Linked DNA regions of Homo sapiens. The protein of the gene in region 4 interacts with the protein of the main gene of each other region in a pairwise test. Each region holds a gene or a part of one and is shown on either strand. Other genes may lie near its edges.

Region 1 (7,027 bases), on a different chromosome or scaffold from region 4:
TTTTTTACAGGAGCAAAGTCTCACTATGTTGTCCAGGCTGGCCTCAAGTAATCCTCCCGCCTTGGCCTCCCAAAGTGCTGGGATTATAGGCATAAGCCACTGCCCATGGTTTTATGTATATAGGTTTGATGGGTATATACTTCAGAGTGGAATTTATGCGCTCTAATGGATATTGCCACCCAGTTTTCCAAATGGTTGTAAAAGTTTATACTCCCATAGCCTCCAATGTGAGTTTAGGTTGGTTCATATCCTCCCTAACACTTGGTATTTCCCACCGTTTTCATTTTTGTCTTTTTCTTTCTTTTTTTTTTTTTTTAAACAAGGTCTCACTCTGTTGCTCAGGCTGAAGTGCAGTGGCACGATCTCAGCTCACTGCAACCTCTGCCTCACAGGCTCAAGTGATCCTCTCACCTCAGCCTCCTGAGTAGCTGGGACTACAGGCATGTGCCACCATGCCAGGCTAGTAGAGATGGGGTTTCACCATGTTGCCCAGGCTGGTCTTGTGAGCTTAAGCCATTTGCCCCGCTCAGCCTCTCAAAGTGCAGGATTACAGGTGTGAGCCACTGTGCCTGGCCATTGTTTTATTATTACTATTTTTTTAGAGACAGGGTCATGCTGTGTTACCCAGGCGGGCCTTGAACTCATTGGCTCAAGAGACCCTCCCACCTCAGCCTCCCAAGTGGCTAAGACTACAGGTACATGCTGCTGTGCCCAGATTTGGTTACTTTTACTATTTTTAAAACTAGTTTTGCTGGGCACCATGGCTCACGCCTGTAATCCCAACACTTTGGGAGGCTGAGATGGCTGGATCACTTGAACTCAGGAGTTCAAGACTAGCCTGAGCAACTGGCAAAATCCCATCTCTACAAAAAGTACAAAAATTAGCCGTCGCAGTGGTGCATGCCTGTAGTCCCACCTACTGGGTAGGCTGAGGCAGGAAAATTACTTGAGCCCTGGAGGCAGAGGTTGCAGTGAGCCAAGATCGCACCAGTGTACTCCAGCCTGGGCGACAGAGCGAGGCTCTGTCTCAAAAAAATAAAATAAATAAAACTAGTTTTTAGTTTGGCAAGTGAAAACTGGCATCTTGTTTACTTTGCGTTATTTTGGTTTCTGGCTATGGTAAATATTTTTAATTGTTATTGTTTTTTGAGAGACAGTATTGCTCTGTCACCCAGGCTGGAATGCAGTGGCACCTTCATAGCTCACTACAGCTTCAACCTCCTGGGCTCAAGTGATCCTTCGCCTCAGCCTCCTGAGTAGCTGGGACTGGACGTGCATGCTACTATACCCAGCTAATTTTTTTTATTTTTAATTTTTGTAGAGACAGGGTCTTGCTATGTTGCCCAGGCTGGTCTTCAACTCCTTGCCTCAAGCTGTCCTCCTGCCTTGTCCTCCCAAAGCACTGGGATTATAGGCATGAGCCACTACGCCCTGCCTAATGTTTTAGTTTATGGTGTTAATTGGTAATGACTTCTAGTGCTGCTTTAATGATATTAACTACTATTTATTGAGCACTTTCCTGACCATGACAAATAATGTGTTAAGCATTTTATACTTGTTATCTATTTTAATCCTCTGAACAGCCGAATCAGTTGTAGATACTTTTATTATTTCGTGAGTGAGGAAACTGATATTAGAGGGAAAAACTGACTTGTTTAAAAGTGCTGCATAGTTAGGAAACTCAGGTTATGTGATCTGTTACTGCACCATTTCCTCTCAACTTCTGTTAGTATAGAGGAGGAATATTCATATATATTTATAGGAGATTGGATTAAATGTATATGTATTCTAGATCCCAGATATATATGTCTGTAATTTAACTGGTTCTCTTGAAAGCAAAATGATCAAATAAGGTATTTGGTGGGGCTAGAGAAGATAAAAAGATTTTAGTTTGATTCTAATTAGAAAGTTGGTTATAAATGTTTAATCTTTTTTTTTTTTTGAGACGGAGTCTTGCTCTGTCGCCCAGGCTGGAGTGCAGTGGTGCAATCTCGGCTCACTGCAACCTCTGTCTCCTGGGTTCATGCCATTCTCCTGCCTCAGCCTCCCGGGTAGCTGAAACTACAGGCGCCTGTCACCACGCCCGGCTAATTTTTTATATTTTTAGTAGAGACGAGATTTCACCGTGGTAGCCAGAATGGTCTTGATCTCCTGACCACGTGATCCGCCTGCTTCAGCGTCCCAAAGTGCTGGGATTACAGGCGTGAGCCACCGTGCCCGGCAAAGCCGGAAGTATTCTTAAGTATTTCTCAAATTATGTTCCATTGCATACTGTTTGGGAAATTTCCCTACTTCCGGACCAAATAACCAAATATCTGTTAACACGCAGATAACTTTGGGTAACACCTAACTTTGGGTAAAACCTATTAACTTTATCCTAGAACTTCCCAAACCAATTTGTGTGCTCTTTTGTAGTAGACCTGTTTATGTCTTGTGGAACAACATGTCGATATACATCAGTTTGAGACAAAAGCTTATGTTACTCATCCTTTTATTTTGTAAGGGGAGGAAATGGAGATCCAGTGTGCGTTAATTTGTTGGCCTAAGATTACACAGCTACTAAATGGCAGAGCCAGGATCCGGTTTTTCCTTTGTACCATGCTTCCTCTAGTAATATTATTAATATGTAGCATTAATATTTATTCATCATATATTATGTTAAGAAGTTGTAAAGCAGACTTGAGTGTAATTGTTCAAATATTCCCATCTAGTCCAGTTATCAGTCTTACTCTCTGATAAATACATATACAGTTACTAAACTTCTGAGATTTATGTACATATGAGTAGCCTAACTTATTTAATATGAATACATATTTATAATCACTTGTTTGTATTTAATTATAGAGATGAAGAGAGTAATTTTTTTTGTAATTAATGTGTCACAATGTTTGGTTTAGTTTCTGTAGAAAATGTTTCCTGACTGCAATGAGGGAAAGCGGAGCACATTGTCCCCTATGTCGTGGAAATGTGACTAGAAGAGAGAGAGCATGTCCTGAACGGGCCTTAGACCTTGAAAATATAATGAGGAAGTTTTCTGGTAGCTGCAGATGCTGTGCAAAACAGGTAGAGTAAATGTGACATCTCTCTTCTTTGGAAGCCAAGTTTCTACTCTGAAATTCTTATTTGAATTTTCTTGGTTGGTGTTTTTTTTTTTTTTGAAAAGATGAAAGGTATTTAGACTGGGAATTGGATAGAAAAGGCCAAAAAAAGCTGTGGTCATAGATCTTACTAGATTATAAACTTACTGAGAAATGAGACTGAAAAAAAAATCACTGAATTTCATAATACTTAGCGTGGCATTTTTCTAAAAGTAATTTCTCATTGATTACTTGCTAAAGTAACTAAATTAGCAAGCTGGCATTTAGCTCATTTAAACCCCATTCTGGTACAAATTCACCCCTTAAGTTTTTCTCATGGTAGCATCATTATTGCAGCTTTACACATAGAAATGTTACTAGTTTGGGCACATGGATTTATGTAGTTTAAGGAACTCTCTAGCTCCTCACTTTACTTATGTATTTATGTATGTATTTAAGAAATCACAAGGGCCGGGCATGGTGGCTCATGCCTGTAATCCCAGCACTTATGGGAGGCCAAGGTGGGTGGATGACCTGAGGTCAGGAGTTCGAGACCAGCCTGACCAACATGGTGAAACCCCGTCTCTACTAAAAATAAAAAATCAGCCAGGTGTGGTGGCGCATGCCTATAATCCCAGCTACTTGGGAGGCTGAGGCAGAATTGTTTGAACCTGGGCGGCAGAGGTTGCGGTGAGCTGAGATTGCGCCATTGCACTCCAAACTGGGCAACAAGAGCGAAACGCTGTCTAAAAAAAAAGAAGAAGAAAGAAATCACAAAATATTTGGTTAATTTTAAGGAACATGTAGGAAAATCAGGTGTTAACAAATAACCAGCATTAATTCTCTAATCTGGATTTTATTCTATCATTTGGAGAAGGAATAAAATAGAGAGGGGTGGTTAGGCTTTGAGTATATCCATGTGTCTATAGATTTATCACCGACATTTTTTCTAATAGCTAATGAATTCAGTGAGCAAAGCTGGTTGCTATTTCATGCATTCACACAAGTCAGATCTGCTTTTACATCTTTTTGAAGGAAGTGTTTAACTGACAGGGCAATGACGTGAAGCTGGAAAACACACTCGAGAGATTCTGGCTATTCCTCTCAGTGAGAAACTGAAAAATGTTCCAAGTATTCCTGGCAACTTAATTTTTTTTGAGACAGGGTCTCACTTTGTCACCCAGGCTGGAGTACAGTGGCACAATCTCGGCTCACTGCAGCTTTGACTTCCCAGGCTCTAAGCAATCCTCCTGCCTCAGCCCCACAGGTAGCTGAGATTACACCTGGCTAATTTTTGTATTTTTTGTATAAACAGGATTTTGCCATATTGCTCAGGCTGGTCTTGAACCCCTGAACTCAAGCAGTCCACCCATCCCAGCCTCCCAAAAGGCTGGGATTACAAGCGCGAGCCACTGCACCCAGCCAGGAACTTAATTTTTTTTTAAGTGCTTTCTAACTCTGCCAGGCTGCAGAAGTTAAATAATAAGACATGCCCAATAGCATCTGGCATCCTCTTAGTGCTTTTAATTTTTTTGTCTACTGCTGGTAGTGTCTTTTCAAGTGTGAAGTTATTTGCTGTTTTTTGCAGTGAATTTATAGACAGATGGACTCTTCTCCATCTCTACATTTAATGAACAGAAATGTATTATCTATTCTTAACTCCTACTTAAGGATGAAATCATTTACTTTAAAAAAATACAACTCCTGTTTAAATGGAGTATTTAGTTACTTTTATTTTTTCCTCTCTTTACACTATTTCAAATCTTACGAGTTCTATTTTAAATTAAAAGTCACATTTTAATAATTTACAGATTAAATTCTATCGCATGAGACATCATTACAAATCTTGTAAGAAGTATCAGGATGAATATGGTGTTTCTTCTATCATTCCAAACTTTCAGATCTCTCAAGATTCAGTAGGGAACAGGTAAGCAATACTTATTCCTAAATACAGAATTTTCATAATTGAAATGGAAATTGTTTTGGGAACTATATGATAAGGTATTTGGGGGGATGTGTGTGTGTGTATGTGCACATGTGTTTTTAAAGTGAATTGCCAAGTATCAGAACTACAGCATTTGCCTTAAAATCTGTTTGGCACACGTAAGCTCTCATCTGGGAGATGACTTCATGAACTTCAGCTTATGTTATTTAAAATCATTCTAAGAATTTTCATTTTTTTGAGTAAAAAATAAGTTGGAGATTTTTCTCTTACTGATTTTGCAACTGAAATGATTTGAAAAACTATAGAAAATCCTTTTCAGTAATGTATTTGCAAACTACAACCTGTTTTTTCTTTGCTATCTAAGGGATAGACTTAGAGTTTGAAATTTTTATTCTAAAATGTCATGTAAAAATGAAACCAGGTGCAGTGCAGTTCTGTTTGAGTCTCATTTCTTTTAAACAACTAGATTTGGATTGATTTGTATCTTATCTCAGATTCATGTACATTAAACATTTTTATGAAATGTATTTTACACAGAAAAATGGCCAAAATGCACTTGTGGTTTAAAAAAATAATGATTAACATCCAGTTACCTATTAACCCAGGTCAAGAAAGAACATTTTTCAAAACTTCAGGATCTCTATGTGAGCTCCTGCCCATTTGAACCGTACACTCCTAGATGCAACCACTATTCTCTTATTTGGATTATTCATTCCTTTGATTTTCTTTATGTATCATCACCCATGCATGTATCCCTAAACAATGCATTGTTAATTTTGAAAACTTCAGTAGTAAGCACATACGTAACTGTAAGGAAAGACAATATTGCCACTATTATAGAAAGGTTCCCAGGAGACAGTATGTTAAGCAGTCTCTAATATTTTATTTTAGTAGCCTTTCATTTTACATATTGCTAATTTTTAGTAACTTAACCGCCCTTAAGCACTTCATGTTGATCATACTACATTAGGCGTCTTCCCTACTCAGTTGAAATTTCTGGTAAAAACCTTTAGTGATTGTCTGGTAAAGATCTGCAGTAATTTTCTGATTGCCTAGTCTGAAAAAACTTCAGGTTCTCATTTTACTTGACTTGTTAGTGTCAAGGAAATTTGTTTGAAAGTTGTTGCTCTTATAGTTTTTTTTTAGTCCTTCTGGGTTTCTTCATTTCTATGTTTTTCTTATTGTTGTACTTCTACTTTATTGTAATTTCCTATCTGCTTTTTTACCCAATAGATTGTTCTTAAGTGAGGGGATGGTGTTTGTCTTGTTGAGCATATCTCCAGCTTTTAGTAAAGTTCTTAGTATACATGATTGTAATCACGCTTTTAATGACCAAATTTTCTTATCAGGAGACAGGCCTTCCTCCCCCTTATTTCTTAGATCCACTTGGTCATAGACACTTGATTCCTAATAGCAATATTCCTCATCTGTACTTTTATTTTATCTTGTCACTTCCCTAGCTCAGGCCCTCATCATCTCTCACTCGAACTATGATAATAGCCTTTTTAGCTGGTAGTTATCCTCTAATCTGTTTTACATTCTATCGCCAAAGTAATATTAATGAAGTATAAAAGACAAAATTCTGGCTGGGCGCGGTGGCTCACACCTGTAATCCCAGCATTTTGGGAGGCCAAGGTGGGCAGATCACTTGAGGTCAGGAGTTCAAGACCAGCCTGGCCATCATGGTGAAACCTTGTCTCTACTAAAAATACAAAAATTAGCTGGACGTGGTGGCGCGTGCCTATAGTCCCAGCTACTTGGGAGGCTTAGGCAGGAGAATCACTTGACCCTAGGAAACGGAGGTTGCAGTGAGCCGAGAGCACATCACTGCACTCTAGCCTGGGCGACAGAGTCAGACTCCGTCTAAAACACACACACACGCACACACACGCACGCACGCACACACACACTTCCTTATTCCAAAGCCCTTTCTGATCTGGCCCTTTCCTCTCTTTTTATAGCCTCTTTCTTGGTTATCCATCGTTGCATCACATGCCTTAGCCAT
Region 2 (7,477 bases), on a different chromosome or scaffold from region 4:
GGTAATTTATAAAGGAAGGAGGTTTAATTGACTCACGGTTCTGCATGGCTGGGGAGGCCTCAGGAAACTTATAATTATGGTGAAAGGGGAAGAGTCACATCTTATATTAGGGCAGGTGAGAGAGAGAAGAATGAGGAGCAAAGGTGGAAGAGGCCCTTATAAAACCATCAGCTCTTGTGAGAGCTCACTATCATGAGAACAGCATGGGGGAAACCGCTCCCATGATCCATTTACCTCCCACCAGGTCTCTCCCTAGACATGTGGGGATTATGGGGATTATAATTTAAGATGATATTTGGGTGGGGACACAGTCAAACCATATAAAATGCTACATATCCACTGGGGATCAGCTGCAGTTCTGCTCCATGTCATCTCTAGTATGGAACTTATGCTGATGGAATAGCTTCTCTCTAAAACAAATTGCTTGTGGCAGACAGAAAAGAGACATGATGAACGCACAAGCTAGCTCTTATAAATTCTGCTTGGAACTGACATTCCTGCTTACATTTTATTGGCTGAAGCAAGTTACCTATCTGCCATCAGTGGGGCCAAGGCAGCAGCACATCACGGAGGGGAACCAGACTGTTTGGCATATCATTAATAGGAATAGATTTTGTGGCAAAAGAAAATGAGTGGTAACCTGATTAAAAAATTGGCAAAGGATTTCAATAGACATTTATCTAATACCATACATAAATGGCCAATAAGCACATGAAACTATGCTATCAGGGAAGTCCAGATCAAAACTACAATGAGATACCACTTCACATCCACTCAGATGGTTGTAATAAAAAAGACAGACAATGGTAAGTGCTGGAAAAGATGTGGAGAAACTGGAACCCTTATATGCTGCTGGTGGGAGTATAAAATGGTGTAGCTGGTTTGGTAAATCATCTAGCAGATCCAGAAAAATTTAAAAATACAGTTACTATGTAGCCCAGCAATTCTACTCCTAGGAATATACCCAAAATAAATGAAAATATATATCCCCACAAAAACTTGTAAATGAATGCGCATAGCAGCATTGTTCATAATAGTCAAAAAGTGGAAATAGTCTGTATGTCCTTCCACTGATGGATAAATAAAAGGTGATTATATATTCTATACAATGGACTATTATTCAGCCTTAAAAAGGAATGAAGCGTTGATGCATGCTACAACGTGGACATACCTTTTTTTTTTTTTTTGAGATGGAGTTTCACTCTGTCACCCAGGCTGGAGTGCAGTGGAGCGATCTTGGCTCACTGCAAGCTCCACCTTCTGGGTTCACACCATTCTCCTGCCTCAGCCTCCCCAGTAGCTGGGACTACAGGCGCCCACGACCACGCCCAGCTAATTTGTTCTATTTTTTAGTCTAGACGGGGTTTCACCTTGTTAGCTAGGATGGTCTCGATCTGCTGACCTTGTGATCCGCCTGCCTTGGCCTCCCAAAGTGCTGGGATTACAGGCGTGAGCCACCGCGCCCAGAAACATACCTCGAATATATGCAAAGTGAAAGAAGCCAGTTACAAAATACCACATCTCATGACTCCCTTTATACAAGGTGTCCGGAGTAGGCAAATCTATGCATAGAGAAAGTAGATTAGTGGTTGCCTATGGCTGAGAGAATTGAGGGAAAATGGAGAAGTGAGTACTGGGTTCCTTTCCGGGGTAAAGAAAATGCAGTGATGATTGTACAATTGTGTGAATATCCTAAAAACCACTGATTTGTATGTAGGTTACATCTCAATAAAGCTGTTTTATATGTATATAAGAAAGATGAATCATTTTTATTTTTGTCATATTTATTTTTATTAATTCAAGTGGAGATGACCAGTAGGTAGTTAACAATGTGGCCTGGATCCCAGGAGTAGGAATCAGGGCTGGGGATATATATTCGGAAATCCAGAGCATAAAGATGCTAACCAAAGTTATGTAAAAGGCAGTGGTCATGTAGAGAGTGTGTCCAGTGGGAAAAGAGTGAAGGCTTATACCTATTCCTGTGGGATAACAATATTTAAAGGCTGGGAGAAATAAGAGAGACTTTAAAAGAGATGGAGAGGGAGTGGTTAGAGATGGAGAAGTGCTACCAAGAGAGTAAAAATGAAAGGCAAGGAAAAGTATTTCCAGAAGGAAGGAGGGTCATGAAGAGAAATTAAGTTAGGTAATGATGATAATGTCCATAAGATATATAGTAGGGAAATCCCTAGTGACTTTTTTTTTTTTTTTGAGACAGAGTCTCGCTCTGTCGCCAGGCTTGAGTGCAGTGGCATGATCTGTGCTCACTGCAACCTCCGTCTCCCTGGTTCAGCGATTCTCCTGCCTCAGACTCCTGAGTAGCTGGGATTACAGGCACATGCCACCACGCCCAGCTAATTTTTGTTATTTTTAGTAGAGATGGGGTTTCACCATGTTGGTCAGGATGGTCTCGATCTCGATCTCCTGACCTCGTGATCTGCCTGCCTCGGCCTCCCAAAGTGCTGGGATTACAGGCGGGAGCCACCAGCCCAGCCCAACTTTTTTTTTTTTTTTTTTTTTAATTGAGATGGAGTCTCGCACTGTCACCCAGGCTGGAGTGCAGTGGCATGATCTCAGCTCACTGCAAACCTCTGCTATCCAGGTTCAAGGGATTCTCGTGCCTCAGCCTCCCGAGTAGCTGGGACTATAGGTGTGCGCCACCGCACCCGGCTATTTTTTTTTTTTTTTTTTTTGTATTTTTGGTAAAGACAGGGTTTCGCCATTTTGGCCAGGGTGGTCTTGAACTCCTGACCTCAGGTGATCCACCTGCCTCAGCCTCCCAAAGTGCTGGGATTACAGGCGCGAGCCACGGCGGCTGGCCCCTAGTGATGTTGGAAAGAATGGTTTCAGTGGGGTGGTGGGGCAGAAACCAGAGTGCAGTAAGTCCAGACTTGAGTAGTGGTTGAGGAATTGGAGGCACTCTTGTTTAGATAATTGGAGAAATGTATTATAGGAAAGAAAGCAGAGGTTGAAGTGGAGTCTGGTAGGTTCGGCGGGAGATTTCAAGATGGGAGAGACTTCAGGTTGTTTACATGCTTATGAGTATGAAAGGAAGTGGGGATAATTAAGAAATGAGGCCCTGACCGCCTTTTATAGAATTGTAGTATGCTCCCTACTCTATCCCCCTTATCCTACTCATTTTGTTAACTGTAGTGCTTATCATGTTATATAATTTACTTATTTATTGTGTTTACTATTTCTTGTGTTAAAAGCAAAATATTAGCCAAATTAAACAGAGTTTGAGCAAAGAATTATTCCCGAATCAGGCAGCCTCCTGAGCCAGAGTAGGTTCATACAGACTCCCGCAGAGCCACATGGTGGAAAAAGGTTTATAGACAGAGAAAGAAAAGTGAGGTAGGGAAACAGCCAGAATGGTTATAGCTAGACGTTTACCTTATTTGAACACGGTTTGAACAGTTGGCCGTCTTTGGCCAAAACTTGGTGATTGGCGCAAGAGTAGGTTGCAGTGTATTTACACCTCCATTTAGGTTATAGTTTACTATTTACGGAGAAACCTTCAGGCTGAACTTAAAATATGTAAGGACACAGCTTTTGGCTAAACTTGATGTAACACTTGCCTGGTTTCACCCTGCTCCAAGAAGCCGGAGGTTTTTTAGAGATTTCTGTTTATTTTGCTCACGTATTAACTCCAAGCATCTAGAATACCATCTGATATATAGTATGTGGTCAATAAACATTTGCTGAATAAATGAAAAAGCGAGTTTTCTAAGAAGGCAAGAGAGAAGGGGAGCCAGAACATAGCCATATGGTTCCTGCCCCCACAACGCTTGTGAGTCCAGGACTTCCCGCCTACTGCGGGTGGGGAGGGAGAGGGAAGGGTAAAGAGCTGTTTCCCAGCTGGATGAAAAGGGACGGTGAATATTCGTTTGATAATTACAGTCTGCATTGAATCTTTTTTCTATTTTGTTCAGACTGATTTAAACGTTAAAGTATTTAATTCATCATATGTTTGTCTTTGAAGTAGATGAAACGTATTTGTTAGGTCTCTGTACTTCGACCTTCCAAGCCTGGCACACAGAAGGGCCCTGATAAAGCTTCTCGGAGGCCTAGTTGTGTTCAGCGCAGCCCAGCGTGCTCCTGTCAAGTGCTTTCGCCAGCACAGATTTCTGTGAGGCGCGTCTCTAAGTCCTTAATCTGTGGATTGACTGTGGTGATAAGGCAGGAGGAGGGAAGAGATTGAGTACGAGAAAGACCTGTGTGGCCAAAAGCGGCGGTGTAAGCTTAACCTAGGAAAAGAAACAGCTTCGGAAACGCCGCGCCGGGACATCGAACCAAATCAACCCTCACACCTCCCGCCTGGGCGCCCCAACGGCGCGAACGGGCGTGCGCCTGCGCGCGGACAACACAGATCTTGCAGCCGGGAGCGGCGCGGCAGCGGCTGAGATCACGTGGTGCGCCGGGAAGCCACCCCGCCTCTCCGAGGCCTCCCTGCCCCGCCCCGTCACGCCCCTTTCCCGGCGGGACGCTTTGAGCCGCCCCGAACTAAGCAGGGCGGTCGGGGGTGAGTGTCCGCGAGGGGCGTGCGTAGCGCAGACCCGGGCGGGTCCGGGTTGGGGCGCGGGCCGTCTGAATGCCTTGCGGGGACCAGGGGACAAAATGGCGGCGGGGTACGCCCTTTCACCCCCTCCCCTCACCTGGGAGTGCGAGTTGAGCGGGGCAGGGATCGTTGCTGGGGGAGGGGAGCCGCGGTCGCCTGGGGAGGGCTCGGAGGTCGGCCTCGGAGGCCTCGGGACGGGGGCTGGGGTGAGCCGCGTCCGGGCCCTGCCCTGCGGGCTCATCTGGGGTGTGAGGGACGTGAGACCCCGCACACTACGCGGTCTGAGGGGTGAGTGGGGGGCTGCCGCGTCACCTCACTTGGGGGCAGCCCCGGCCGCGGGTGACGAGGCTTCTGGAATGTCTAAATGCGAGGGGCCCCTGGAGGAGCCTCCCTTCGTTTGACAGGTGATCGTCTTCGTCATCTGTCATTCCCAGCGGGGTTTACCATGCTTTCCCTGTACTCTGATCTTAGCTCTGCCCAGGAAACGGGGCAGGAATGGCCTCTCCGTCTTCCAGATGCGTGCGCTGAGGCCTGGAGGGGCGAAGAGCCTCTCGCACCTGGGAGTAGTGGGACCCAGCCTCCTGCCTCTGTTGCTGCTCTTTTCCAAAACAGCACTTCCTTGGCGCCTTTCCTCTACACCGTTTTCCAGGCGCGTTCGTGGGAACGGCACCAGGGAGGAACGGGATTGTTAGAAAGCAGGCACAAAACTGGTCCTGTAAGCAACACCTGCTGCTGTTAAGGGGGCCCCAGCTGAGATGAGGCCGCCTGTTTGTGAGCAGCTTCCTGTTGCTGGTGGACTGCATCTCTTATTCTAGTTGTGACAAGTTATTTTCCATGAAAATAGCTATTCATTAATAGTCATTTTACCGAACAGATACTAATTCCTTATATGAATTATAGTTTGTCTTAGTTTATGGATTAATTTCATCATTAACTTTTCATCTTCATAAATAATCTGGTAGAAGGATGGATGGGCTAGGAGTAATACTTATTTTATGAATGGAGAAACGGGGGCTCAAAAGGTTATTACTTGCCTTAGATCACCAGCTGGTGAGTGGTAAATCTGGGGTTAAGTTTTCTGACCTAAGGTTGGTAGTCTGACCACTGTCCCACTCTGGCCTATACTGGTGCTCTTTCCCTTCTGTTATTTCTGTTAACTATGACTTTTCCTCAAAGTTTGTTGGTTGCAGATGATTTATGCCACTTGAAGAATGATATCCACTAAAGAATTAATATTTTTAATCAATCAAAGAGTCAAGTTTTAATGTGATTTGGAAGGTTGTCTGTGGGAGAAGTAATCTGATGGCTTTGAAGGCAGACTGTTTTGAGTTTGAATCTCAGCCCCAACCCTTGTTTTTGGCAAATTAATTTTTCTGAGCCTTTCTTATCTGTAAAGTAGGAATAATATCCACCTCATAATTTTGTTGATAGTAATAAATTAGGTGTCTGTAAAGTATTGAGAACTGTTCCTAGCCCATGGTAAGCCCTCAACAAATGCTCTTTTCCTTCTTTCTCCACACTCCCTTGAGCTGCATTAAAAATATACTCTATGTGTCTTTGGTCCATTTGGGTCTGGTATAGCAAAATACCTCAGACTGAGTGGCTTATAAACAACAGAAATTCATTTCTTGCAGTTTTGGAGGCTGGGAAGTCCTAGATCAAGATGTCTGATGATTCAGTGTTTGGTGATAGCCTGCTTTCTGGTTAATAGATGGCACCCTCTAGCTGTCTCCTTACATGGTGCAAGGGTGAAGGGGTCTCTCTCTGGCCTCTTATAAGGGAATTTATCCCATTCATTAAGGTTCTGCTTTCATAATACAGTCATCTCCCAAAGGCCCCACCTCCTGATATGACCTTGGAAACTAGGATTTCCACAAGAATTTTGAAGAACACAAACATGCAGACCATAGCATTATGGTTAATCACTTGGTTGTTCAGGTCAAATAACCATGGAAGTGTAATCAGCAGTACTGTACAAATGTGTTTATAAATAAATTTTGGTGACTGGTCCAAAGGATATAGTATTCTAAACAGACTTTAAAAATGTTTGCCATTGGTGCTTCATAGGTATTTTAAGAACTCCTAAAAGATTGATATTAAGGTCATTAATGTCTTCATTTAGCTGCAGGAATGTTTTAAAGATAAGTAAGATGAAGGGACTTGAGATTCTGTCATTTCTTTCACTTTCTTTTTTTTTTTTTTGAAACCGAGTCTCACTCTGTCACCCAGGCTGGAGTGCAGTGGCGCAATCTTGGCTCACTGCAAACTCCACCTCCCAAGTTCAAGCGATTTTCCTGCCTCAGCTTCCTGAGTAGCTGGAACTACAGGCACTCACCACCATGCCTGGCTAATTTTTTTTTGTATTTTTAGTAGAGACCGGGTTTCACCATGTTGGCCATGCTGGTCTCAAACTCCTGACCTCAGATGATCCACCCACCTCGGCCTCCCAAAGTGCTGGGATTACAGGCGTGCGCCACTGCACCTGGCCTCTTTCACTTTCATACCTGACCACAGCCCAGACTAGTTTTAAAGGATAAACAACTTCTTTGGGAATCACATGTGAATGTTATTTAAACACTTAGAAAGTGGGGGTATTATTTAGGGGGAAGTTTAATAGAATTCTCTGTAAGGGTACAATCTGATATCCATTGTGGAATTGGCATTTCTGAAATTGTAGAAGAGAAAACTGTAAATGGCTGGCATAGCAAAAATTAAATCATTAATAAAATTCTGTTTGCAGTTTCTGCTGGATGGTAACCTTTTTTTAAAAAAAAATTCAACTTATATAGTAGAGGGTACATGTGTAGATTTGTTACATGGGTAAATTGATGCCGATGCTTGGGGTCCCAATTATCCCATCACACAGGCCATAAGCATAGTACACAACAGGTGGTCTTTCAGCCCATGCTCCCCTTGGCCTAG
Region 3 (7,027 bases), on a different chromosome or scaffold from region 4:
GAAAACCCAACCTTTCCTCCCACCCTATGATGTCGTACCAGTGACTCCTACTGGCTGACCTCTAGCAAAAGCCAGCAAGTAAACAATCTCAGGATGATGCACTACATAGGACAGTTCAGCCTTCCACAACAGAGAAGGGCAGGTGAAGAATCAAGTGGGCCAAGGGGCCAGGGAGCAGAGATGAGGAATAACCAGCACACATAATATATAAATAACATTTACAAAGAGCAATCAGAGCACTGAGCGTAGAGAGGAAGTACAGTTGAGATACAGGTATAGGGAAGAATATAAACCAAAGCACAGAGTGTATGCTATGTTTAGAGAATTGTGACGAGTCTGAAGTGGCTAGAGCATTGGACAATTAGTAGACTATGAAATATGAGGCTACAAAGGTAGACTAGGACAAGATCATAAAGCAAAGGTCATAATAAGTTGATCATAAAGAAAACTATGGCCTGCAGTGCAAATCTAACCTGCTATCTATTTGTGTAAACATTTGTTGGAGGAGAGCAGTGTCCATTCATTTATGTATTGCTTATGGCTGCTTCCAAGCTACAGTGGCAGAGTTGAGTAGTATTGCTGAGTAGCTGCAACAGAGACAGTACGGCCCATAAAGCCAAAAATACTGTCTGGCCCTTTAAGAAAAATGTTTGCTGACCTCTGTTGAAAAATACTTAGAATGACATATCAAGAGCCTGGGTAACTTCATAAACAATGGATAAACTGTCTTTATCTTTAAAATGAGTGTAAAGTGAAAGTCAGAATCCAGCAGAAAACTCTAAAGTTTGAAAGGAAAAGGAGCAGCCATTCATACCCTCTAAGAAAATATTTTGGAAACTAACATTCATCCACTTCAATGGAACTGAATATTTATGCTAATCAAGTAATGTATGTCATGGAATTTATTTCAGGCGCTCTTATCTCTGTAGTTTTCTAAATATTTACCTCATATTTTTAAAAATGTAAATAAGTCATTAATTTGTATTTAAACATTTACCTTCAGGGTGTTGTCTTCTGGAATATCATCCAACATTTGTTTCTTATATTGATTTTGTTGAAAATTGGGCTTAAGTGTCTGTAGTGCACTGTTTTTGTCTAGCCCTCTCATTGTGCAGCCAGATATTTTTGATGAATGTGTTTGTCTGAGTAGCTCGGTTTCTTTGTTGCGAGATAAGTTAGGAGGTTCAGGTATTCTTAATTGTTTTTGTTGTTGAGCTCCCGAACTCACTGGACAAGAATTTTTTCCATCATTTGCCACTAAGTTTGTTCGTTTACATTGAGGCTTAAAATCATTTTTATTCCAAGTTTTCAAGCTGGTATTTTTGTTACCATCTCTGTAGCTGTAATAGTGCAAAAAAAAAGCATTTGTTTCTATATGGTTTCTTAATTACAAAAAAAATTAATAATGAAAAATTCATTTATATGGCAATTTATGACTTAGAAAGCACTTTATAACTAACTACTGAGAAATTCCAAATACATCACAACAACCCTACAATGTTGTACTACCTCTCTTTCCAGATGAGAAGACTGATCCCTAATGAGGAATTAACTTGTCCAAAGTCATACAGGAAATTACTCACAAGTCTAGAACCCAGGAAATACAAGATCTCCCAACTCAGAGTCTAGTACTACAAAGTATATTTTTAAATGATAGCATTCTTCATATGATAGTAGTTGTATCCAAGTGGTAAGACTTTGAGGGCATTTACTTGCTTCTTTATATATTCAATTTTAAAATTTTCTACAAAGTAAAATTTTAAGAAGTTAAACTGTGGCTTAGCAATGATTTTAAATCACAAGGAGAATACATATAAGCAGGATAGATAGCTATTAATATTTGATTAGAAATTTTGTGGTTTTACTGCACAGCTTAAAAGCCCTATAATGTATTTGGTACAGCATTTGTCAGCAACATTAAGTGTGTTATATCAGCTGACCAGAACATTATGCTAGATGCTAATGAGGCCAAAATCAAAAGCATAATTTCTGAGCAGCCTAGTTAGGAGTTCCACAGGAAACAAAACTAGTCTAAGTCACGAATTTTTTTTTTTTCTCTTGGAGACAGGGTCTCGTTCTGTTACCCAGGCTGGAATGTAATGGCAAGAACACAGCTCACTCTAGCATCAATCTCCCAGGCTCAAGCGATCCTCCCACCTCAGCCTCCTGAGTAGCTGGAACTACAGGTGAGTGCCACTATGCCCAGCTAATTTTTGTTATTTTTTGTAGAGACAGGGTTTCACCACGTTGCCCAAGCTGGCCACAAACTCCTGGGCTCAAGTGATCCACCTCCTTGGCCTCCCAAAGTGCTGGGGCTAGAGGCATAAGCCACCATTCCCAGCCCACAAATTCTTAATTCTCAGTAATTTTCCTGGAAATACCACAAGTATCACAAGAGGGCAACCAATACAACCCATCCCCTACTTAGGTAAATAATCCAAAAAGAGGTCTAGGTACACTGCTGACCAGGAACAAATCCAAGTTTTATGAGGTCTGAAGCTTGTATAATTTGGGGAACACTGTTAATTGGGTACAAAGTTAGTACAAAATAACGAGAAAAGAAAGCACAATTACAACAATTTAAGTTATAAACACCACAAACATCACGATACCCAGAAAAAAATTGTTAGAATTATTATAAATTAACTGCCTGATACTCCTTTATAGAAATTTTTTCCTACACTGATCACTTCTTCATACGACAATAATTTTGTAATTTTTTTGGACTCAGGCCAGTCTCAAACCCATGGGCACAAGTGATTCTCCTGCCTCAACCTCCAGAGTAGCTGGCACTACAGGTACGTACCATCACACGCAACAATTTTGTAATTTTATTTTCAATAAAGAGAACAGAAACACAATTTTGTCTTTCCTCACTCTCATGGTTATAGAAATTACTTTTATTATTCATAGTCTAGAAAAATTTATTTCAGCTTTACAACTCTCTGTTCAGCACATTTGTAGTAATGCCAAAGATCACTGATCACAGATCATCATAACAGATATAATAATAATGAAAAAGTTTGAAATATTGCAAGAAGTACCAAAATGTGACATAGAAACATGAAGTGAGCACATACTGTTGGAAAATGGCACCAATCGACTTGCTCAATGCAGGGTTACTACGAAACTTTGACTTGTAAAGAATGCAGTATCTGTGAAGTGCAATAAAGCAAAGTGCAACATAATAAGGTATGCCTATATGAGGAGAGGCTGAGTGGATTAAAGATCCAACTGTATGCTGTCTACAATGAACTCAGTTTAGATTCAAAGACACATAAAAGCTGAGAATAAAGGGATGGAAAAAGATATTCCATGCAAACAGCAACCAAAAGAAAACAGGGGTGGCTAAGTTTATGTCAGACAAAATAGACTTTAAGTTAAAAGTTGTTTCTAAAGACAAAGAAAGTCATTATATAATGATAAATGGGTAAATTCAATAGGAAGACATAAAAATTGTGAACATATATACATCCAATATCAGAGCACCTAAATATATAAAGCAAATATTGACAAATCTAAAAGGAAAAATTGACAGCAACATAATAAAAAAAAGAAAGCTCAATACTCCACTTTTAATAATAGATAAATCATCCAGACAGAAAAATCAATAAACAGTGAACTTGAACAACACTATGGATCAAATGGACCCAAAAGACATATATGGAATTTGCCAACCAACAGCAGAAGACTACACATTCTTCTCAAGCACAGATGGAACTTTCTGAAGGATAACTCACGTTAGGTCACAAAAACAGACTTAACAAATTTAAGAAGATCAAAATCACACCAAGTATCTTTTCTGACCATAATGGTATAAAACTAGAAATCAATAACAGCTAGAAAATGGAAAAATTCGCCAGGCATGGTGGCTTACGTCTGTAATCCCAGCACTTTGGGAGGCCGAGGTGGGCGGATCACAAGGCCAAGAGATCGAAACTGTCCTGGCTAACATGGTGAAACCCCGTCTCTACTAAAAATACAAAAATTAGGTGAGTGTGGTGGCATGCACCTGTAGTCCCAGCTACTTGGGAGGCTGAGGCAGAAGAATCACTTGAACCTGGGAGGCGGAGATTGCAGTGAGCCGAGATTGCACCACTGCACTCCAGCCTGGGCGACAGAGCGAGACTCTGTCTCAATTAAAAAAAAAAAAAAGAAAACCAGAAAAGAAAATGAAAAAATTCACAAATACAACAACACCCTCTTGAACAATCATTGATCAAAGAGGGAATTAAAAAAGAAAATCTTAAAATTATTGAGACAGAAACAAAACATAACATACCAAAACTTATGGGAAAGCAAAAGCAGTACTAAGGGGAGTTTATAGCAATGAATGCCCAAGTGGAAATAAAAAGATCTCAAATAAGCATCCTAACTTCACACTTAAAGAAATTAGAAAAAGAATAACAAACTAAGCCCAAAATAAGCATATAAAGGCAATAATAAGACTAGAGTAGAAATAAATAAAATAGAGAATTAAAAAAAAAAAAAAGCAAAACTGGGACCGGGCGAGGTGGCTCATACCTGTAATCCCAGCACTTTGGGAGGCCGAGGCAGGCGGAGCACAAGGCCAAGAGATCGAGACCATCCTGGCCAACATGATGAAACCCCGTCTCTACTAAAAATATAAAAATTAGCTGGGCATGGTGGGGCAGGCCTGTAGTCCCAGCTACTCGGGAGGCTGAGACAGGAGAATTGCTTGAACCCGAGAGTGGAGGTTGCAGTGAGCCGAGATCGTGCCACTGCACTCCAGCCTGGCAACAGAGTGAGACTCCGTCTCAAAAAGAAAAAAAAAGAAAAACTAAGAGCTTATTTTTTTGAAAAGATAAAGTCGACAGCCCCTTACATAGACTAAAAAAAGAAAAAAGAAGATTTAAATAAATGAAAGAGGAGACATACAATGGATTTCTCAGAAATAAAAAAGATCATAAAGGACTATTATGAACATTATATGACAACAAATTGGATAACACAGAAGAAATGGATAAATACCTAGAAACAAGCAACTTACCAAGATTGAATCAAGAAGAGGCAGAAAGCCTAAACAGACCAATAATAAGGAGATTAACGAAGTAATCAAAAACCTCTCAACAAAGAAAAGCCCAGGACCAGATGACTTCACAGTGAATTCTATCAAACATTCAAAGACAAATTAATACCAATCTTTCTGAAATTCTTTCATAAAACAAGAGGGAATTCCACTTCCAAATTCATTTTATGAGACTAGCATCACTCTGATATCAAAATCAAACAAAGACACTGCTAGAAAACTACAGGCCAATATCACTAAAGAACATACATGCAAAAATCCTCAATAAATACTAGCAAGGCAAATTCAACAGCACATCAAAAAAATTACCTGTCGAGTACTCTGTTCACTTCATGGGTGAGGTGACAGGATCCATACTTCAAACCTTAGCATCACACAATATTCCCATGTAAACAAATCTGCACATGTACCGCTTATATTTAAAGTGAAAGTTGAAATATTTTTTAACAAAATTATACACCATGATTAACTGGGATTTATTTCTGGGATGCAAGGTTGGTTTAACATACGCAAATCAATCAATGTTATACACCACAGTAGCAGAATTAAAGACAAAAATAGATGCAGAAAAAGCATCTGACAAAGTTCAACATCCATTCAGTTTACTCTAAAAAAAATAAGTATAGAAGGAACATACTCCAACACAATAAAGGTCATTTGCAAAATTCCCACAGCTAACATCATAATGGGGGAAAACTGAAAGTTTTTTTTCAAAGATCCAGTACGACGCAAGGATGCCCACTCTCACCACTTCTATTCAAACATAGTTACAGGCTGGGCATTCTAAATCTGAAAATCCAAAACTCGAAATGCTCCAAAATTTGAAACTTTTTGAGCAACAACATGATGCTCAATGGAAATGCTCACTGAAGCATTTCAGATTTTGAATTTTCAAATTTAGGATACTCAACTGGTAGGTATTCTGAAAATATTCCAAACTACAAAAAAATCTGAAACATTTCTGATCCCAAATATTTCAGACAAGTAATACTCAACTAGTCTTGGAAGTCCTAGCCAATCAATTAGCCAAGAAAAGGAAATAAAAGGAGCGCAAATTGGAAAGGATGAAGTAAATGTCTCTGTTTGCAGATGACATGATCTTGTATGTAGAAAACCCTAAAAACTCCATTAAGAAACTGTTAGAACTAAAAAATGAATTCAGTAAAATTGCAGGATACAAAATCAACATACAAAAATCAGGAGCATTTCTTTACACCAACAATAGATATTCCAAAAGGAAACCAAGAGAATGATCCCATTTACAATAACACCAAAAAGAATAAAATACTTAGGAATAAATGACCAAGATAGAGAAAGGTCTATACACTAAAAAATATAAAACAGATTAAAAAAAAAAAACCTGAAGACAAAATAAATGAAAAATCCTGTGTCATGGATTTGAAGAATTGATATTGTTTTTTGTTTTATTTATTTATTTATTTTTATTATTATTATTATACTTTAAGTTTTAGGGTACATGTGCACAATGTGCAGGTTTGTTACATATGTATACATGTGCCATGCTGGTGTGCTGCACCCATTAACTCATCTTTAGCATTAGGTATATCTCCTAATGCTATCCCTCCCCCATCCCCCGACCCCACAACAGTCCCCAGAGTGTGATGTTCCCCTTCCTGTGTCCATGTGTTCTCATTGTTCAATTCCCATCTATGAGTGAGAACATGCGGTGTTTGGTTTTTTGTCCTTGCGATAGTTTACTGAGAATGATGATTTCCAATTTCATCCATGTCCCTACAAAGGACATGAACTCATCATTTTTTATGGCTGCATAGTATTTCATGGTGTATATGTGCCACATTTTCTTAATCCAGTCAATCATTGTTGGACATTTGGGTTGGTTCCAAGTCTTTGCTATTGTGAATAGTGCCGCAATAAACATGCGTGTGCATGTGTCTTTATAGCAGCATGATTTATAGTCCTTTGGGTATATACCCAGTAATGGGATGGCTGGGTCAA
Region 4 (7,027 bases):
TCAGGTGACCATGAACTCTCAACTCTATTCCACTGGGTTTATTTCTGGACTCTCAATTCTATGCCACTGATCTACACATTTATCCTTATACCAGTACCACACTGTCTTTTTATTTTTATTTTTTTGAAATGGAATCTCGCTCTGTCCCCCAGGCTGGAGTGCAATAGCACGATCTCGACTCACTGCAACCTCCACCTCCTGGGTTCAAGGGATTCTTGTGCCTCAGCCCTCCCAAGCAGCTTGGACTACAAGTGTGCACCCCCACGCCCGGTTAATTTTTGTATTTTTGGTAGAGACAAGATTTCGCCATGTTGCCCAGGCTGGTCTCGAACTCCTGTCCTCAAGTGATCTGCCTGCCTTGGCCTCCCAAAGTGTTGGGATTATAGGCATAAGCCACGGTGCCTGGTGACGTTGTCTTGATTAGTTGTTTTATAGTATGTCTTGAAATCACAAAGCGTGAGTCTTTCTGCTTTGTTCTTTTTCAAGATTTAGCTATTGTGGGTCCCTTGCGATTCCATAGGAATTTATGAATTGACTTGTCAATTTCTTTTTTTTTTTTGAGATGGAGTTTCGCTCTTGTTGCCCAAGCTGGAGTGCAGTGGCGCGTGATCTCAGCTCACCGCAAGCTCCGCCTCCCAGGTTCAAGCGATTCCCTGCCTCAGCCTCCCGAGTACCTGGGATTACAGGTATGTGCCACCACACCCGGCTAATTTTGTAGTTTTAGTAGAGACAGGGTTTCTCCATGTTGGCCAGGCTGGTCTTGAACTCCTGACCTCAGGTGATCCGCCTGCCTCGGCCTCCCAAAGTGCTGGGATTACAGGCATGAGCCACTACGCCTGGAGACTTGTCAATTTCTACAATGAAATAAACTGGGATTCTGACAGGGATTATGTCAAACGTGTAGATCAATTTCCAAAATACTGCCAATTTGACAACGTTATGTCTTATGATCCATGAACAAGAGCTATTTTCTATTTATTTATTTATTTATATCTTCTTTCTTTTAAAAATGTTTTACAGGCCAGGCACGGTGGCTCACACCTGTAATCCCAGCACTTTGAGGGGCCAACATGGGAGGTTGCTTGAGGTCAGGTTCAAGACCAGCCTGGGTAACACAGGGAGACTCTGTCTCTACAAGAAATTAAAAAACAAACAAACAAAAAAAAAAAGCTAGGGATGATCGCGCATGCCTGTGGTCTGAGCTGCTTGGGAGGCTGATATAGGAGGATCACTTAAGCCTGGAAGGTCTAGGCTGCACTGAGATATGATTGCACCACTGCACTTGTTCTCACTTCAGTGCAAGTCCGAGAAAAAAAAAAATCAATTAATTAAATATTTTAAAAGGCCAGGCTGGGCGCACTAGCTCACGCCTGTAATCCCAGGACTTTCAGAGGCTGAGGCGGGTGGATCACCTGAGGTCAGGAGTTCGAGACCAGCCTGGCCAACATGGTGAAACCCCCTCTATACTAAAAATACAAAAATTAGCCAGGCATGGTGGTGCACACCTGTAGCTCCAGCTACTCCGGAGGCTGAGGCAGGAGAATCGCTTTAACCTGGGAGGCAGAGGTTGCAGTGAGCCGAGATCGCGCCACCGCATTCCAGCCTGGACGACAGAGTGAGACTCCGTTTCAAAAAAAATTAATTTAAAAAACAAAACCAAAAATGTTTTACAGCTTTTAGAGTATAAGTTTTATACTTTCTTTTACTAAACTGTCAGAGGATGGAAAAAAAGATACCTCTTTTGTTATAAGTATTTTTATTTTTTAGGTTATTGTAAATGGAATTTTCTTAATTTCCTTTTCAGATTGTTCATTCCAAGTGGATACATTTACAACTAAGTTTTGTGTAATGATCTTGTATCCTATAACCTTACTAAACTAATAATTTATTAGTTCCAATACTTTGGTAGTGGATTCCTCAGGGTCTATATGCAAGATCATGTCATCTGCAGAGATGATCTTACTTGTTCCCTTCCAACATAGATGTATTTTATTGCATTTTCTTGCCTAATTGCCCTGGCTAGAACCTCCAGTACAATGCTGAATAGCAGTAGTGAAAGTAGACTTATCTCTCTTTTTCCTAATCTTAAGGATAAGCATACAGTCTTTCACTATTTTGTTTGTTTGTTTGTTTGTTTTGAGCTCTGTCGCCCAGCCTATTGTGTGCAGTAGTGCTATCTCAGCTCACTGCAACCTCTGCCTCCCAGGTTCAAGCAATCCTCCCACCTCAGCCTCCCAAGTAGCTACAATTATAGGTATGCACCACCACACCTGGCTAATTTTTTTTTGTATTTGTAGTAGAGACAGGGTTTCACCATGTTGGCCAGGCTGTTCTTGAACTCCTGACCTCAAGTGATCCCTCCAACCTTGGCCTCCTAAAGTGTTAGGATTACAGGCGTGAGCCACTGTGCCTGGCCTCAGTCTCACTATTATGAAGTTAGCTGTGGGTTTTTCATAACTGCTGTGTATCAGGTTGAGGAACTGCTCTTCTCTTCTTAGTTTATTTAGTGTTTTTATCATGAAAAACATGCTGAATTTTGTCAAATGCTTTTTCTGTGTCTACTGAGATGACAAGGTGATTTTTGTTTTTTATTCTATTGATATAATGCATTACATTATTTACACTAATTCATTTTTGGATGTTAAACCAACCTTGCACTCCTGGAATAAATCCTGCTTGTTTATGGTATATAATTATTTTTATATGTTACTGGATTCAGTTTGCTAGTATTTTTGTTGAGGATTTTTGCTTCCACATTTGTAAGATATATTTGTCTATGGTTTTCTTTTCTTGTAATGTCTTTTCCTGGTTTTTGGCAACAGGGTAATACCAGTCTCATAAAATTCGTTTGTAAGTATTTTCTCCTCTTTTTCATTTTTGAAGACTTTGTGAAGAACTGTATTAATTTTTCTTGAAATGTTTGATAGAATTCAGTGGTGAAGTTATCAGGACCTCTAGTAGGTACAGGCCTGGGCTTTGCTTTGCTTTTCTTTCTTCTTTTTTTTTTTTTTTGAGATGGAGTCTCACTTTGTCACCCAGGCTGGAGTGCAGTGGCGCAATCTCAGCTCACTGCAACCTCCAACTTCCCGGGTTCAAGCGATTCTCCTGCCTCAGCCTCTCGAGTAGCTGGGACTACAGGCGCACTCCACCATGCTCGGCTAATTTTTGTATTTTTAGTAGAGATGGGGTTTCACCATATTAGACAGGCTGGTCTTGAACTCCTGACCTCGTGATCTGCCCACCTTGGCTTCCCAAAGTGCTGGGATTACAGGCATGAGCCACTGCACCCAGCCTCTTTTCTTTTTTTTAAGAGACAGGGTCTCACTCTGTCACCCTGGCTGAAGCACTGTGGCACAATCATAGCTCACTGCCTCCTCAACCTCCTGGGATCAAGTGATCCTCACACCTTAACCTCCTGAGTAGCTGGGACTCCAGGCTCACACCACCACGCCTAGCTGAGTTTAGATATAGTATGTATATTTTAGAGTTGGGGTCTCTCTATGTTGCCCAGGTTGGTCTCAAGCTCCTGGCCTCAAAGGATCCTCCTGCCTTGACCTCCCAAAGTGCTGAGATTACAGGCAACAGCCACTGTGCCCAGGTCTCTCTCTCTCTCTCTCTCTCTAATTATTTATTTATTTTTTAAGGGTATACTATCCTACCCAAACTTATATTTTTAAATTCCATTAGACTCATATTACCAAGCATATAAACAAATCACACATAACACGAAATAGAAAAAAACATTAAGACTTCCTTTGCTTTTGGAAAACAACTGAGAAACAACAAAATTCTTTTCAGAAATACAGAAAAAAATTGTTTTTATAGTGTAGCTAATATGCCCTCCTTAGACATTAAGACACTTTTCTGTTTGTACCCTTAATGCAGCCATATTTTTACTCTTTATAAAAATCAAGGCTCTCAATAAAAACAGTATCTCACTCACTAATCATTAAATTGCATCACTGAAAATGTAGTTATACACACCAATTTCTAACTTCTTAGAATACTCTGCACAATCAATTATAATCACTGAAACGAATAACTGCTCAAAAACGCAGAATGGCTTCAACTACACTATGATTTGGTAGTCAATATTCCTGTTTTCCAGTAAAAAGGAGATTTCATAAACAAACATTGGGCTCCTTAAGGTTTCATCAATCAAGAGAATCTTTCTGAGCAGCTTCTGAGCAAATGTTTCTTAACAGGCTGATCACAGATCTAGGGTCTTCACTCCTCACCATAGCACTGCCAGACACAATCATGTTAGCTTCGCCTCTGCACACCTATGGACAGTGTCAGGATCTATTCCACCAGCGACCTCTATAGCCAAAGATGGGAACTGGATCCTCAACCAGTGAACCTTTAACATCATATCTTCCATGAATTTATGCCCTCCAAACCCTGGTTCCACTGTCATAACCAAGGTCATACCTAGTTGATTAGCCCATGGTGCCAAATACTGAACTGAGGTTCCTGGTTTTATGGCAAGGCCAACCTTCATCCCATTCTCCTGAATGTCTTTAATCAAAGCCCCTGGGTTCTCAGTTTCCTCGAGATGAAAGATGTACTGATTGGCTCCTCTTATAGCCATTGGCTTTACCCACTGTTCTGGCTTGGACACCATCACATGCATGTTCATCCATTACATTCCGGTGGAGATAATCGACCCCAGAGTCTAGCATCCAGAGGCACTGGGCCCCTAAATTGGCCAGGTAGCATTGAGGATGGACAGGCCAATCTTGCAGCCCGATGCCATACTACTGGTTCCCAAGGGCAAGTTACCCCACGAGTCCCCTCAATTACTAATTTAATATCTTTACTTGTTATAGGTCTATTCAGATAGTGTCTCTTCTTGGGTCAATTTTGGTGGTTTATATCTTTCTAGGAGTTTGTCCATTTTATTGAAGTTATCTAATTACTTGGCATTCAACTGCCATTTTACTTTTTTTTGTATGTGTTTCACATCTTTTTTTTTTTTTTCAGGGCAGGGATGGAGTCTCGCTCTGTCACCCAGGTTGGAGGGCAGTGGCACGATCTCTGCTCACTACAACCTCCGCCTCCCGGGTTCAAGCAATTCTCCCGCCTCAACCTCCCAAGTAGCTGGGGTTACAGGCACCCGCCATCATGCCCAACTAAATTTTTGTATTTTTGTAGAGATGGGGTTTCACCATGTTGGCCAGGCTGGTCTTGAACTCCTGACCTCAGGTGATCCACCCACCTCAGCCTCCCAGAGTACTCCCAAAGCCACTGTGCGGTGGCTGAGGCAGGAGAATCGCTTGAACCAGGGAGGCAGAGGTTGCAGTGAGCCGAGATTGCCCCACTGCACTCCAGCCTAGGCAACAGAGCGAGACTCTGTCTCAAAAAGAAAAAAAAAATTAACGAATTCTTTCTTCACCCAGTTCAAATCTGTTATTGAGTCCTGAGTCCCTCTAGTTAATTTTTAAATTTGTTATTGTACTTTTTTTTTTTTTTTTTTTTTTTTTGAGACAGAGTCTTGCTCTGTTGCCCAGGCTGGTGTGCAGTGGCTCGATCTTGGCTCACTGCAACCTCCGCCTCCCAGGTTCAAGGAATTCTCCTGCCTCAGCCTCCCGCGTAGCTGGGACTACAGGTGCCGGCCACCACGCCTGGCTAATTTTTGTATTTTTAGCAGAGACGGGGTTTTACCATGTTGGTCAGGCTGGTCTCGAACTCCCGACCTCAGGTGATCCGCCCGCCTCAGCCTCCCAAAGTGCTGGGATTACAGGTGTGAGCCACCGCGCCCAGCTGTTATTGTACTTTCAACTCCAGAATTTTCATTTGATTCTTTTTTTATAATTTCTATATCTTTATGGATATTCTTTAATTGATGCAACAGTGTCATACCATCCTTTACTTCTTTGTCATCATATTTTCCTTTAGTATTGTGAATATATATAGTACTGTGAATATATATATAGGCCAGTTTGAAGCCTTTTTCATTAATTTGGCCCCTTGTCTCACAGGCAGTTGCTGCTGCCAGCTTTTTTCCAGTGTATGTGTCATATTTTCCTGTTTCTTTGTACGTCTCACAATTTCTTGTTGGAAACTGGACATTTTAGATAATATACTGTAGCAACTCTGGGGATTGGTACCCCCTCTCCAGGGCCAATTGTTATTTATTTGTTTAGCGACTGGCTGGATTATTTGAGTGAAATCCATTTCCCCTGAAAAGTGTTAAGGCCTATGATATTGCTCTTCAGGGAGGTGCAGCTTTGGGTATGCTCACAGTCACCCTGGGATGACAGTGGTTTTGGTAGGGTTCTCTTCTATTCTCTCCTTGACCACACCCAGCTATGAAGCTCCACTAATTGTGGCATATTGTTCTATTATTTTCAACAACACACTGAGGCATAACTTGCTCTTACTCTACAAACTGATACAATCAAATTGTGGCTGTTTGGAGGAAAGCATTTTTTTCCACCTCTGCCACATACCTTACTTTTCAAATTGTTTTTTATTGATTCATAATAGTTGTACACATGTTGGGGGTACCTGTAGTATTTCGATACATTAATATACAATGTATAATGATACAACCAGGACAGGAGGGACATCCACCACCTCAGAGGTCTGTGGTCAATGTTTTGTTTTGTGACAGGACAGAGCTTCACTGTCACCCAGGCTGGAGTGCAGTGGCGTGATCTTGGCTCACTGCAACTTCCACCTCCCAGTTCACGTGATTTTCCTGCTTCAGCCTCCCAAGTAGCTGGGATTACAAGTGTATGCCCCCATGCCCAGCTAATTTTTGTATTTTTAGTAGAGATGGGGTTCACCATATTGGTCAAGCTGGTCTCAAACTCCCGACCTCAGATGATCTGCCTGCCTCAGCCTCCCAAAGTGCTGGGATTACAGGCGTGAGCCACCATGCTGCGGTCAATGTTTGATCCTTCTTCTGATCCTAGAATGGCTTCTTCCAGCTGTCTTATTCCCCAATTCTTTCCAGCAAACCAGGAGGCCTACAGTCTAGGCTGCATCTCCATTAAATCCGCAGATCTCCCAGTTGCCTCTT

Evidence for each region.
Region 1: the proteins of NF2 (region 4) and RNF138 interact in binary tests that used the Homo sapiens proteins (3 or more experiments, as listed by UniProt).
Region 2: the proteins of NF2 (region 4) and SCAPER interact in binary tests that used the Homo sapiens proteins (3 or more experiments, as listed by UniProt).
Region 3: the proteins of NF2 (region 4) and SPATA22 interact in binary tests that used the Homo sapiens proteins (3 or more experiments, as listed by UniProt).

The regions. Positions count from the first base shown.
Region 1 is NC_000018.10:32,108,857-32,115,883, forward strand, and holds part of RNF138 (E3 ubiquitin-protein ligase RNF138), read left to right. Parts: intron 1-2,897; coding exon 2,898-3,063; intron 3,064-4,888; coding exon 4,889-5,004; intron 5,005-7,027. UniProt on the Homo sapiens protein: E3 ubiquitin-protein ligase involved in DNA damage response by promoting DNA resection and homologous recombination.
Region 2 is NC_000015.10:76,902,341-76,909,817, reverse strand, and holds the start of SCAPER (S phase cyclin A-associated protein in the endoplasmic reticulum), read left to right. Parts: upstream 1-4,477; 5' UTR 4,478-4,519; exon of another isoform or gene 4,520-4,614; coding exon of another isoform or gene 4,615-4,625; intron 4,626-5,026; exon of another isoform or gene 5,027-5,070; coding exon of another isoform or gene 5,071-5,204; intron 5,205-7,477. UniProt on the Homo sapiens protein: CCNA2/CDK2 regulatory protein that transiently maintains CCNA2 in the cytoplasm.
Region 3 is NC_000017.11:3,447,810-3,454,836, forward strand, and holds part of SPATA22 (spermatogenesis-associated protein 22), read right to left. Parts: intron 1,341-7,027; coding exon 998-1,340; intron 1-997. UniProt on the Homo sapiens protein: Meiosis-specific protein required for homologous recombination in meiosis I.
Region 4 is NC_000022.11:29,606,629-29,613,655, reverse strand, and holds part of NF2 (merlin), read right to left. Parts: intron 1-7,027. UniProt on the Homo sapiens protein: Probable regulator of the Hippo/SWH (Sav/Wts/Hpo) signaling pathway, a signaling pathway that plays a pivotal role in tumor suppression by restricting proliferation and promoting apoptosis.